Homo sapiens: one gene and its partners. The protein of the gene in region 2 purifies or fractionates together with the protein of the main gene of each other region. This does not show direct contact. Each region holds a gene or a part of one and is shown on either strand. Other genes may lie near its edges. The genes, in order: CCNYL1, BCAN and VCAN.

Region 1 (3,821 bases), on a different chromosome or scaffold from region 2:
GCTGGAGATCAATAGCCATCCTAGGCCATGAAGGTGGAGGTGATGGCCAATGTTGTCTGTTGACTCCCTTACTGGAAGTTTTGCAGGAACAGGAGCCTTTTTTTATCTTGGTGAAAGCAACATCCCCAGCACTTAAAAAGTATGTGACATGTGCTAAGAGCTCAGGTATTGAATGGATAGTGAACGTATGAGTTAACTCTGGACCTATATAAAGTCTCAGCTTCTTTCACAGAATCAAACTCTTGCTTAATTCAAAGCACATTCCTCCTACTTGCTTCCCTTTGCTCTCCCAGGCTTGCCACTGTTACAGAATTTTTTTTTCTTAATTCTCTCTAATATTCCCTTCATTCAAAATGTTTTAAAATCTATTTCCGTAACAATGCTTCCCAATATCTTCCTGGTTAGCAAGTTTTAAATTCTTCAGTTTTCAAGGTCGTAGATATCTATTTTTGTGTATGTCTGTTGTTAAATGCAGGCATTATTTTGTACCTTAAAATAGGCATCGTCTCAAGTCTACAAGAATCATCCAAAATGGTATCTAATGACATTCCTAGGGTTTCAGACAATTTTTTTTTTCTTTGAGACGGAGTCTTGCTCTGTCGCCCAGGCTGGAGTGCAGTGGACTGATCTTGGCTCACTGCAATCTCTGCCTCCCAGGTTCAGGAGATTCTCCTGCCTCAGCCTCCCTAGTAGCTGGGACTATGGGTGGACGCCACCATGCCTGGCTAATTTTTGTGTTTTTAGTAGAGACGGGGTTTCTCCATGTTGGTCAGGCTGGTCTTGAACTCCTGACCTCAAGCAATTCACCCGCCTCTGCCTCTCTAAGTGCTGGGATTACAGACGTGAGCCACCGCGCCCAACAAGAGCAAAACTCCGTCTCAAAAAAAAAAAAACAAAAAAAAAACAATCCCATTTTGCAGGTTTTATAGAAGAAATTGGGACGCAGAAGTTAAGTTACTTCCGCAAGCTTACATGACTGCTCAGGGTGAGGGTCCCTGATCATGATGATCAGAAAATAAAGGTAGAAATCAAGCTTAGGGAGGAAGTGACATTGTGTGTATATATATATATTTGTTTATTTATTTTTATTTTTATGTTTTATTTTTTTGAAACGGAGCCTAGGTCGCCCAGGCTGGAGTGCAATGGCGCGATCTCGGCTTACGGCAACCTCTGCCTCCCGGGTTCAAGTGATTCTCCTGCCTCAGCCTCCCGAGTAGCTGGGAATACGGGCGCGTGCCACCATGCCCGGCTAATTTTTTGTATTTTTAGTAGAGACGGGATTTCACCGTGTTAGCCAGGATGGTCTGGATCTCCTGACCTGGTGATCCGCCCGCCTCGGCCTCCCAAAGTGTTGGGATTACAGGCATGAGCCACCGCGCCCGGCCGGGATTGTTTTTAAGGGTTAAATAAATATACCACAGTTGGAACACTGTCTGGCACATAGTGCTTGCCAAATGGTAACTATTCATCTTCATGGAATCAAGACTGTGGTGCCCCACTGCATGGTTCTCAGTTTTGCGTGAGAAAATCGTGCTTTCTGTGCTGTTTTTAGTACAAGAAGAGAAACCTGGAAGTCCCTGCCTAGAGGAGAGAAACAGGCAAGAAAAGGGAGTTGGCGAGTCCCAGCATTTCAGAGTTGGCAGGGACGAGTTAGGTCCCTATTTTATGGATGAGGAAGTGGAAGGGTGACGTGTCCTCGAGTCTCATTCAAGACCCACAGCCACAACTCTTTATGGAGAGTAGGACCAGGGCCCCAGGGTTGCTATGATCACGTTGCAGGTGAAAACTAACGCTCATTGGAAGACAGGAGCGGAGCACTGAGTTACAAAAACAGTTAACAATTTGGGTGTAACCAAGTTTAGTGAGCAAACGAAAGCTGTCAGACTCGGAAGAAGAGTTGCTAATGGAGCGAACTCTTTACTAATAACGGCTTTCTACAGAGATCATTGACACAGCTTCCAGTTACAAATGCCCGTGCGCTTCCAGTAGGACCGGAAAGCTCCCAGCAGCCAGCGATGAATGAAAACCCGAGTCTGGGATAGCGGCGTGAGGGGCTGGGCAGCTGCCAGGCGGGGGCGGGGCAGCAGGTCACGTGCCTGGCTTCGAGGCGGGCGCCGGAGGGGGAACTCTGACCATGATTGGTTCCTCCTAACCAGGTGACCGCAGGTCGCGTTCCGGTTGGCAGGCACCGGCCAGGGCCAGCGGCCTTCAGTCGGTAGGCGGCGGCGGAAGGAGGAGGAGCTCCAGCCGCGCTCTCTCCCGGCAGTGGCTGTGCTTCACAGCGCTTGTTGGGTTCCCCACCCCTTTTAAATAAGCCGGGCTGGTCACCGCCCTCGCAGACGAGTCAGCTTAAGGGAGGCGGCGGCAGCGCGGCGGTGGGGGTGCGGCCGAGGCCCGAGCCCTGCCCGGGGCCGGGCCGCGGGGCGGGCGGGCGAACCGCGGGCGAGGCGGCGTCTGCTTGCGCGGTGCAGCCCCAGCGTAGCCCGGGGCTGCCGGTGCCGGCCGCGCCATTGTTGGGGGAGGGGGCGGCTGTTGAGGGCGGCGGAGTAGGGGGCGAGCGAAGGCGGTGGCAGAGAGGAGCGGAGGCTTCCCATGGGGAACACGCTGACCTGTTGCGTGTCCCCCAATGCCAGCCCCAAGCTGGGCCGGCGCGCGGGGTCGGCGGAGCTGTACTGCGCGTCCGACATCTACGAGGCGGTGTCCGGGGACGCGGTGGCGGTAGCGCCCGCTGTGGTGGAGCCTGCCGAGTTGGATTTCGGAGAGGGCGAGGGCCACCACCTGCAGCACATCAGCGACCGCGAGATGCCCGAAGGTAAGGAGGCGGCGGATGCCATCCGCCCTCGGGCTCACCTCTGCCCGCCTCCTCCCCCAGAGTCCCCCGGGAGGCATCCGCCGCCTCGGGCTCCTTCCTGCCGGTAGCCGGCCCCGGGACGAAGGCTGGTTCTGCCTCGCGTCCCCACCCCTTATTCTTGCCCTGCTGCGTCTGGCCAGTTTCTTTTCCTCCTCCTTACCGTAACGCCCAGTTCTTGCTCCCGCTTCCCATTCTCCCAAGCCGGCGTGGGACCCTCTAGTCCGCCGCCCTTCTTGTTTGTAGCTCTGTTCATTGTCTGGTGGGACTTTGCTAAGACTTTTGGGGTATATTGTTTTCCTTTTCTCAATGGAAACTCAAATACCTCAACTTCGGAGTACTCATCCCATTCCCTCCCTTAACCCATCCAGATGGTACCTAAGTGAAGGAACCAGGTAAGGGTCTGATTGTTCCTTCCTCCCATCCGTGAAGATAGCTGATGCCCGCGACAGTTTAGACCCAGATGTTTGAGGATTTCTTATCTAGACTCAAAATAGAGGTTGCCATAGGAGACACTATATGGTATTCCTAATAGGTTAAGTCGGCGTGAAAGAAGCTGCTTTATTCCTTCCAACTATAATTTGAACACAGAAAGAAAGAAAATGGGGGGAGGGGCGTAAAATGACTGTGAAGGGTGTGAGAGGTTATTACCAGGGGTGCAGACAAGTTGTTTTTTTGAGACGGAATCTCGTTTTGTCGCCCGCCCAGGCTGGAGTGCAGTGGCGCGATCTCGGCTCGCTGCAACCTCCGCCTCTCGGTTTCAAGCGATTCCTCTGCCTCAGCCTCCCGAGTAGCTGGGATTACAGGCGTGCGCCACCACGCCCAGCTAATTTTTGAATTTTTAGTAGAGACGGGGTTTCACCATGTTGGTCAGGCTGGTCTCTAACTCCAGAGTTCTTGATCCGCCCGCCTCGGCCTCCCAAAGTGCTGGGATTACAGGCGTGAGCCACCGCGCCCAGAGGTTGTTAACTCA
Region 2 (3,600 bases):
TAGCCACCCTGGGCTGCAGTGGTCCAGGCCACCATCCCAGGCTGCATACAGTTGGCCCGTGGTGGCAATCTCTGCACCCCGCTCCTGGCAGTACGCCCGTGCTTCCTCCAATGTCAGCTTCTCTGGAGGGTCACCCAGGAACAGTTCTCCTGGGTGGAGAAGAGAAGGCTGGGTTATCAGGCAGCTGGTAGCTCCTTCCACTCTGGTCTCCCATGGGAACCCTGGGCAAGCTTCTCCAGTTCCCTCATCTGTGGCAGGGAGTCAACTACTCTACTTCATAGGATCATAGTCTGAATAGAACCTCAAGATGGATATTAGAGCTCAAAGAGATGGGGCCCAAACTTCTTGTTCTGCAGAGTCATGCACAGAGTCCACCTGGCAGGTGGTAGATGAGTTAAACTCGGTATCCTGCTGCCTGGCTGAGACTTTGGTCATGAGCTTGCCTCTGTGACAGTGTTTGGAGAGAGGGACACCAATTGTCTCCTTACTCCTGCTTGCCCCCTTAAACTCAGGAGGGATAGTAAGGTCCTGCAGAGGCCCCGGGAGGACCTATGGGCAGCATGGGAGTAGGAAATTGTCCCCTGGGAACCTCTCACTCCTAATCACCATTTAGGTCTTCAGCATAACAGTACACATCATAGAGGTCATCCGGGTCCACCACACCATAGTTCCGGACCCCGGGGAAGCCATCCATGTCTCCGTAACAGGCCTCTCGTGGGGTCTGGATGGGATACCTAGGGAGGAAGGACAGAATCACTTAGTACAGATGCTTTCACCAGGGAGCCAGCCCATATTGATTCTATTGAACCCCACTGCCACCACAGTGCAGACACTTGCTGACAGCTGGCTGTCCTTCTAGCACTGCAGGGATGCACATGCTCAGGGTCCTCACCTCCCCTCCTCAGACCAGCCTCATCCCCCAGAGGCAAAAAGCCCTGCATGTCCAGCCTGACACAGCAGGCAGCACCCAGCAGAAGGGGGGCCATGGCCACCTCAGGGGCCAATAGAAGCCCCAATCCACAGCCCCTGCCCACCTCACGGTCTGATCCGACAGCCAGCCAGCATCACATTGCTCATAGCCCCCAAGGTAGGCGGCATAGAGCTGCTCCGGGGTGGCGATGTGGGCTCCAATGCGGGCACAGGCCTCCTGGGCCCCAGAAAAGGAGAAAGCATAGCGGGCAGAGCCCTCTCGGTAGAGAAAGACGACCCCTGTGGGGCAGAGAGGACCCCTGAGCCAGGTGAGCACCCAGCACGCTGGCCTCCCCTCACCCTCCTTGTCACTCCTCTGTACACAAGGGTAAATAAAGTTCAATTGTGCTCACTCTACAGCATGAGGGACTTAAGTTAGATTGTGGGTAGAATGTCCTCCACCTGAAGAGAGAAAGGAGACAACAAAGGCCCGTGTCTCCTCACTCTTTTTCCAACCCAGGCTGCGCCTTCCAGCTACCTTTGCTTCCCTCTCACACTGTGGGATCCCCGAAGGCAAGAGTCCTCCCTTCCCTCCCTCCCTCCCTCCCTCTGGAACCTCCCTGCCCTCTCACCTTTGACCTTGACCTCCACAGCGTCGCTGCTGTCATCGATGCCGTGCTGGACCTCACAGCGATAGATACCTGAGTCGTTGGGGCGCAGCTCGCTCAGCGCCAGGGAGACGTCGGTGAGCGACGCTGGGTACGCAGGCAGTGCCACGCGGAACCGGTAGGCCTCGTTCACCTTGACGCGCACTCCCCGCGCCACCAGCACCTCTGCCTCCCGGCCCCGGGACAGGAAAGTCCACTTGACCCGCGGAGAGCCCAGCACAGCCCGGCGGCTCGGCGGTGGCCGCAGGTAGTGGACGTGGCAAGGGATGGTGAGGGCGCCGCCGAGCACGCCCTGCAGTGGCGCGTCGCCCGCGATGCGCACGCGAAAAGCGCGGTCCTCTGTGAACGGGTGGAGCCGGCTGGAACTTAACGCTGTCGACCCTCAGAGTCCCACCCGGTGGCCTCCAAGCCCCGCTCCAGGATCCCTCCTTCCGGCCCCAGGATTCCCCGGCCCCCCTAGGACCAGGGGCCAGGGGCCAGGGGCCAGGGTCCTGCAGCCCTACCTCTAGGTCCTCCAGGACCACCCCGACGGTCTCCAGACCCATCCCCCAAAGTCTCCCAGTCAATTCAGCCCCCAGGATTCCTTGCCCTGCTCTCAGAGTCTTCCACTTCCTCTCCAAAATTCCTAGACCACACCCCAGGGTCCTCCAACCTCGCCCCCTGAGTCCTCCAGCCCAGTTTCCCAGTCTGCTCCCTTTAGGGCCTCCTTCAGGGTTTCTCCCAGTTCCACCCCTTTCCCACCTCCTAGCTTCAGGATCCCCTATCCTCCACCTTAGGGGCCCAAAGCCTTGCACCCAGTGCCCTTCCCTAGTCCTGCCCCATGATTTCTCCAACCCACCAGATGCTCACAGCTCAGCCCTTATTTCCAAGTGTTCCAGCCTGGACGCTTCCCCACAGCCCTCCAATTCTCTCTCTTCCTGGGGCCCCTAAGCCTGGAAGCAGTTGGTTAGGGCTGAACAAGACAGAGACGGTGACCCCAAGTGGGGTTGCTTACCTGAGCTGTCTCCTTCCAGAACATCTGCTAAAGCTGCAGGAGCCTGGGCCAGGACCAGGGCTGCCAGCAGGGGCAGGAACAGCTGGGCCATGCTGCAGGCTGACAGAGGGACATGAGAAGGAAAGATGGGGTTAGACTTCAGGATGGACTTCCCCCCTGCTCCCTACCACACCCATGTGGGTTCACACATATCCTGGCTCCAGAAGTCCCCTACCTTCACATCACCATGGACTCTCTGTTTCTGATCCCCATCTTCCCAGCAAGTGATTTCTTCTCAGAACCAAAACCCGAGTCCTAGTCAACTCACTGTGTGACCTAAGCCAAGCTCCTTACCTTCTCTGAGCCTTTATTTTCTTACTTATAAAAAAGCATCATCATTACTATCTCATGAGTTGAGATAGGACCATGTGCTTTGAGAGTGTTTAGTATCTTAAAACTCCTGTACAAATGCATAGCACCAGGCAGACAGTAGGAGCTCAGTTTACAGCATGAATGGTGGGTGCTCTTATACTCAGAATTCCATCTGCTCCTCCCAGTGCCAGACTCCTTCCTCGAACCCAGAGCCTTCTCCCATAGTATCTCTTTAGCCTCTTCTGCCTTCTAGACTGTCCCTGCCTCCAGGGACACCATACTCACCTGGCCTTTTCCAGGAGGGCCTCCTAGACCGAACGCAAGTAAGCACAGCTTCTCCTGAGCCCACCCTCTCCTCTACTTCCTCCCCACCATTATTTGTAAGGAAACTCCTCTCTTTACTCCCCAACATTCTCCATCCCCCTTCCTTGGCTGCCTCCTCCCTTCTTCTTCCCAGCCTCTCCTTTCTGCCTGGCACGGGCTTTCCCACCGGAACTCTTGGCTCAGAAATCAGTTGGGACAAAGCCCCTGTCTCTGCCAGTCTGGCCTCTATCCAGCCCCTCCCTTCCCCCACCCTACCTTTTGTGAAAGCCTTGGGCTGGAGGGTGGACTAAGGGGGGGGAGAATAAATGGGAGGGGCTACCCCTTCCTACCCCTGGCTATCAGAAGCTCTAGAAC
Region 3 (3,821 bases), on a different chromosome or scaffold from region 2:
CTAATGTTGTATCAGTGTAATATGGGGGATTGGATCCTTCCATCACATCAGGCACCTCTGTTACACTCTGATCCATAAGGTGGGTAGTAGCAATACTTAGATAGGGAGTATGGTCTACTAATGCCTCCTCAGCTCCTGAAGAGAATTCTGGCTGAAAAGAAGGACCAGCATGTTTTTTGTCTTCATACTCCTCCTGAGTCCTTTCAAATTGGCCCAATGTTGGTATTATTTCACTTTGGTCTGCAATAGCTTGACCATCAGACAAAGTGCTTGATTCAAACATGTCATCCAGGGCTTTTGCTTCAGCTTTTATTCCTTCAATCTCTGGAATAACTGTGGCAGACTTACGAGGAATTGGCAGGGATGTTGCCGTGGGAAGTAAAACGTCTAATTCTGTTTCTGTGCTAGGAGCAGGGATCCCAGTTGTGAAGTGAAAGCCCATGTGATCTAGTTGGCTTCTATCTTCATAAGTCATTGATTCATCATGTGTTGCCTGAGTGTAGCTAGCCAGAACATCAGCAGAGCCCTCAAATGTTTCCTCAGTTAAAGAAAGGTTGACAGCTGCCTCATAGATCTCTTGAACTTGAGTGCTGTCATCATTACTTTCATCATTACTGTCATGTGGTTCTGATGGTACCTCTGTATCTATATCTGTTTGCATTCCAAGAATGTCTTCATACACAGGTTTAGTATGATCAATATCTATGATAGTATTTTTATCCGATGTCAGCTCAGGTAGAATTTCAAGGATGGTACTCTCTGTAATTGTCAATATTAAATCCTTGTCCTCTTTGTCCAGGTCTATGATAATATTTTCAGTGGGTTTTTTTCTGTTAGGTTTTAAGGTGGAATCCTCGAATTCCCTGAAACGGTCTTGGAAACTACCGTCTGTGGACCTCTCATATGACACTGTATTTGACAGTGTGCTAGTTGGATCAGGGGAGCTTTTGTTCTGCTCTGAATGAAGAGGCAGCATCACTGAAACTGTTGGGAATCCATCAGCAGTAACAGCTTTAGCGCTTGGCACCTCAGGATGTTTTTCCAGGGACCCATCAGAAACAAATGTGGTGCTGCTTTCTTGTCTGGTTGCCTGAGTAGTTGCAGAAGTGTGAAATGAATCAACAATATCCACTTCTCCAGATCCTTCTCCAGAAGGTTCATAATACAAGTCAGATGGTTTTGGTGCTGATGTAACAAATTCTTTGGCCATTTCAAAACCATAAGCTCTAGCCAGAAAATCAGTAGATGAGGTTGTTGTTTCGTTAATTTCTGCTGTTGAAGAATTCTTGTTAGAGTCTTGTTCAGTTATGGTTTGTGGTCTACTAGTCTGGATTTCTTCTGCCCACCTGACAGTCTGATTTTGAGGATGTCCGATGTCCGTGGAGAAAGGGAGAGGTGCCACCGTGGGTCCTTCTGCTCCAGTGTCACTTAAAATTTCTATTAATGTTGTGCTGGTTACTGACCCACTACCTTCAAAGATGTCTGTTTGAGATACGAGTGGTCCAACTTCTTTTGCCACATTTTCCATTCTGTTAAAGTCTTCAATTTTGTCACTTGAGGTACTTTCCACTTGAGAAGTGTGGGGATATAATGTGTTATTGATTTGTTCCACTTCAGTAAAATTCACTGACTCTGTTGGTAGAGTAGGTAAAACTTCTTCTCCTGATCCCAGTCCAGAGAATAAGAGCTCAGTATCTGACTCTTGAATTGTTGGTCTCATGCCTTTCGGAAAATGTTTTGTACTTTCTTCCTTTTTGATTGGTGAATCTGTGACTACATGTTCAGCTGGTATAGATTCAGTTACTAATGCAGTAGCTAAGAAAAAATGTGACTTTTCAGTAGCTTCAGGGAGAGTTGTGTAAGATTCCAAGCCATTTGCATCTGGATCTGGAGTAGACATGTTAACTAAAGAAGTGTCTTCCTCCTTCATTTCTTTATCATCACTGTAAGTTTTCTTTGTTGTTAGTACAGAATAATCTGTGGTTTTGAGTTCAGTTTCAGTAAATGTCTGTGAATCAAAGATTGTTTGTTCTGTTGCAGGAGAGTTTTGAGGGGATTCAAATGACTTTTCTTCTTGAATTTGTTCCTCTGATGTTGTTTCACTTTCAATTTCTTGTCTTACAGGGTTGACTTCTTGCCTAGACCATAATTTGGCTGGCTCTATAGTTTGGGGAAAGTTTGTTGAAACTGTGCCACTGACCTTTACTTCCTCCTTCTCTACTGGAGCTTTCGTACCTTCCACTTCTGCTGTTGGTAAAATGGTGGATCTTCTATCAATTTCATTGACAGTACCCACTTCTCCCAATCCTTCGTCGATAATGGAGGAAGCTGTACCAGAAAACTTTTGCACAGCACTGGGAAGCACTGGAACAACAGAGCTGCTGACTGTGACCAGTTGCTCACCTGAGCCCTCAGCTGAGGATGTAAACTCTTCCCAGGGGAAGGCTGAAGTGCTGACCATGGTGCTACTGGGTCCTTCTGAGTCAGATATGTGACTGATGTGAACTGAAGTAGGTACTGTAGATGGTGAAGTCTGGGTGTCCCTAAATGCTGCATCTCCAGAGCCTTCCATCATTACCGTTTCTTCTTTTGCTATGGGATGAGACACTGTTGAGTATTCTCTAAAGTCACCACTGAAATCTTCCTCCAAAGGAAAACCTGTGGAAAAGCCCCTTATTTCTGCCCCATAATTTGGTTCTCCTAATCGCTCTGAAATCACTATTTCCCTGGATGTTTGGGTTATATTTTCAGCAACTACTCTGTCCATTACTGTACTCAAAACCAGTCCTGTTGGCTCAGTGGAGAATGTAGTTTCCACATGCGGAGACAAAGTGCCAGCTACTTCCTTTTCGGCTTGAATTGCATACTCTACGTTTAATGAAAATGAAGAAACAGTGGTGGTTTCTGGGTCGGCAGCAGCTTCTCCAGAGCCCTGCTCCATAAAGACAGAGGCAGGACTACGTGGGAGAGTGGTCAGCCCTTCCTGAACCCCAGGTTGATGGATACTGCTGTGCTCAGTGGTCTGTGCCCCCAAATTTTCTAATGTATTTGTTTCTGTAAAGACAGGAGTAGAATCTGTCATTTCCCTTTCAGACTGTGTTGGTGTTGTCAAGGACATAAAACTTTTCCTGGTACCTGAATCACTAGATGTAGCTACATTTGGACTTTCTAATTCAAAGGGTAAAATTAATTGATCCGATCTCTGTGTAGATGAATATACCTCAAATGTAGAAGCCGTACCTGTAGTTCCCTCCTCCTCCTTCCTTTTCTTTTCCTCAACAGTGGTACTGGAAATCCACTCAGAAGTGTCTGTTTCACTTACAAACTTGGTAGGCACCACTTTTGCAGAAGGTTGTTCAGAAACTGGATAAATGGTGGTTGCAGGAACCTCAAAAAAGCTTTCTGTGATTATCCTGCTAGTGTCTAAAGTAATGAGTGTATCAGTAGTATTTCTCTGTGATAAATCAGTTACCATGGTGAACATTGTATCTTCATCTTCTTCTGCTTCTCCAGAGCCTTCTGTAATTGGAATCGAAGAACTCCCTGAGAGCTCTACAACTTGTCTAGGAGTTGCTTCTACCCAGCTTTCTTTGGTAGACAACAGGTCATCTGGCCAAGGATTTCCTATTAGGGTAACTGCTTCTTCCTCTGAAACATATGCTGATGCAGAACTTGGAACTATAGTGGGAGTGTATGTGACAGAAGTACTTTTTTCTACCTCTTCACCAAATGTTACTTCTGTAGCCCTTGCAAAGGCTATTTTCTGAGATTCTTGGTCAATGGCAATCTCTCCTGAAGACTCTTCAGGAAACAGAGATACA

Evidence for each region.
Region 1: the proteins of BCAN (region 2) and CCNYL1 purify together in Homo sapiens (affinity purification with mass spectrometry; 2 studies listed by BioGRID and IntAct, with this or other methods). This does not show direct contact.
Region 3: the proteins of BCAN (region 2) and VCAN purify together in Homo sapiens (affinity purification with mass spectrometry; 3 studies listed by BioGRID and IntAct, with this or other methods). This does not show direct contact.

What each region holds. Positions count from the first base shown.
Region 1 is NC_000002.12:207,709,305-207,713,125, forward strand, and holds the start of CCNYL1 (cyclin-Y-like protein 1), read left to right. Parts: upstream 1-2,335; 5' UTR 2,336-2,592; coding exon 2,593-2,812; intron 2,813-3,821. UniProt on the Homo sapiens protein: Key regulator of Wnt signaling implicated in various biological processes including male fertility, embryonic neurogenesis and cortex development. Activates the cyclin-dependent kinase CDK16, and promotes sperm maturation.
Region 2 is NC_000001.11:156,645,117-156,648,716, reverse strand, and holds part of BCAN (brevican core protein isoform 1 precursor), read right to left. Parts: exon of another isoform or gene 3,335-3,600; coding exon of another isoform or gene 3,208-3,334; intron 2,982-3,207; exon of another isoform or gene 2,671-2,981; coding exon of another isoform or gene 2,663-2,670; coding exon 2,572-2,662; exon of another isoform or gene 1,917-2,571; coding exon 1,542-1,916; intron 1,210-1,541; coding exon 1,035-1,209; intron 735-1,034; coding exon 607-734; intron 150-606; coding exon 1-149. UniProt on the Homo sapiens protein: May play a role in the terminally differentiating and the adult nervous system during postnatal development. Could stabilize interactions between hyaluronan (HA) and brain proteoglycans.
Region 3 is NC_000005.10:83,537,620-83,541,440, reverse strand, and holds part of VCAN (versican core protein isoform 1 precursor), read right to left. Parts: coding exon 1-3,821. UniProt on the Homo sapiens protein: May play a role in intercellular signaling and in connecting cells with the extracellular matrix. May take part in the regulation of cell motility, growth and differentiation. Binds hyaluronic acid.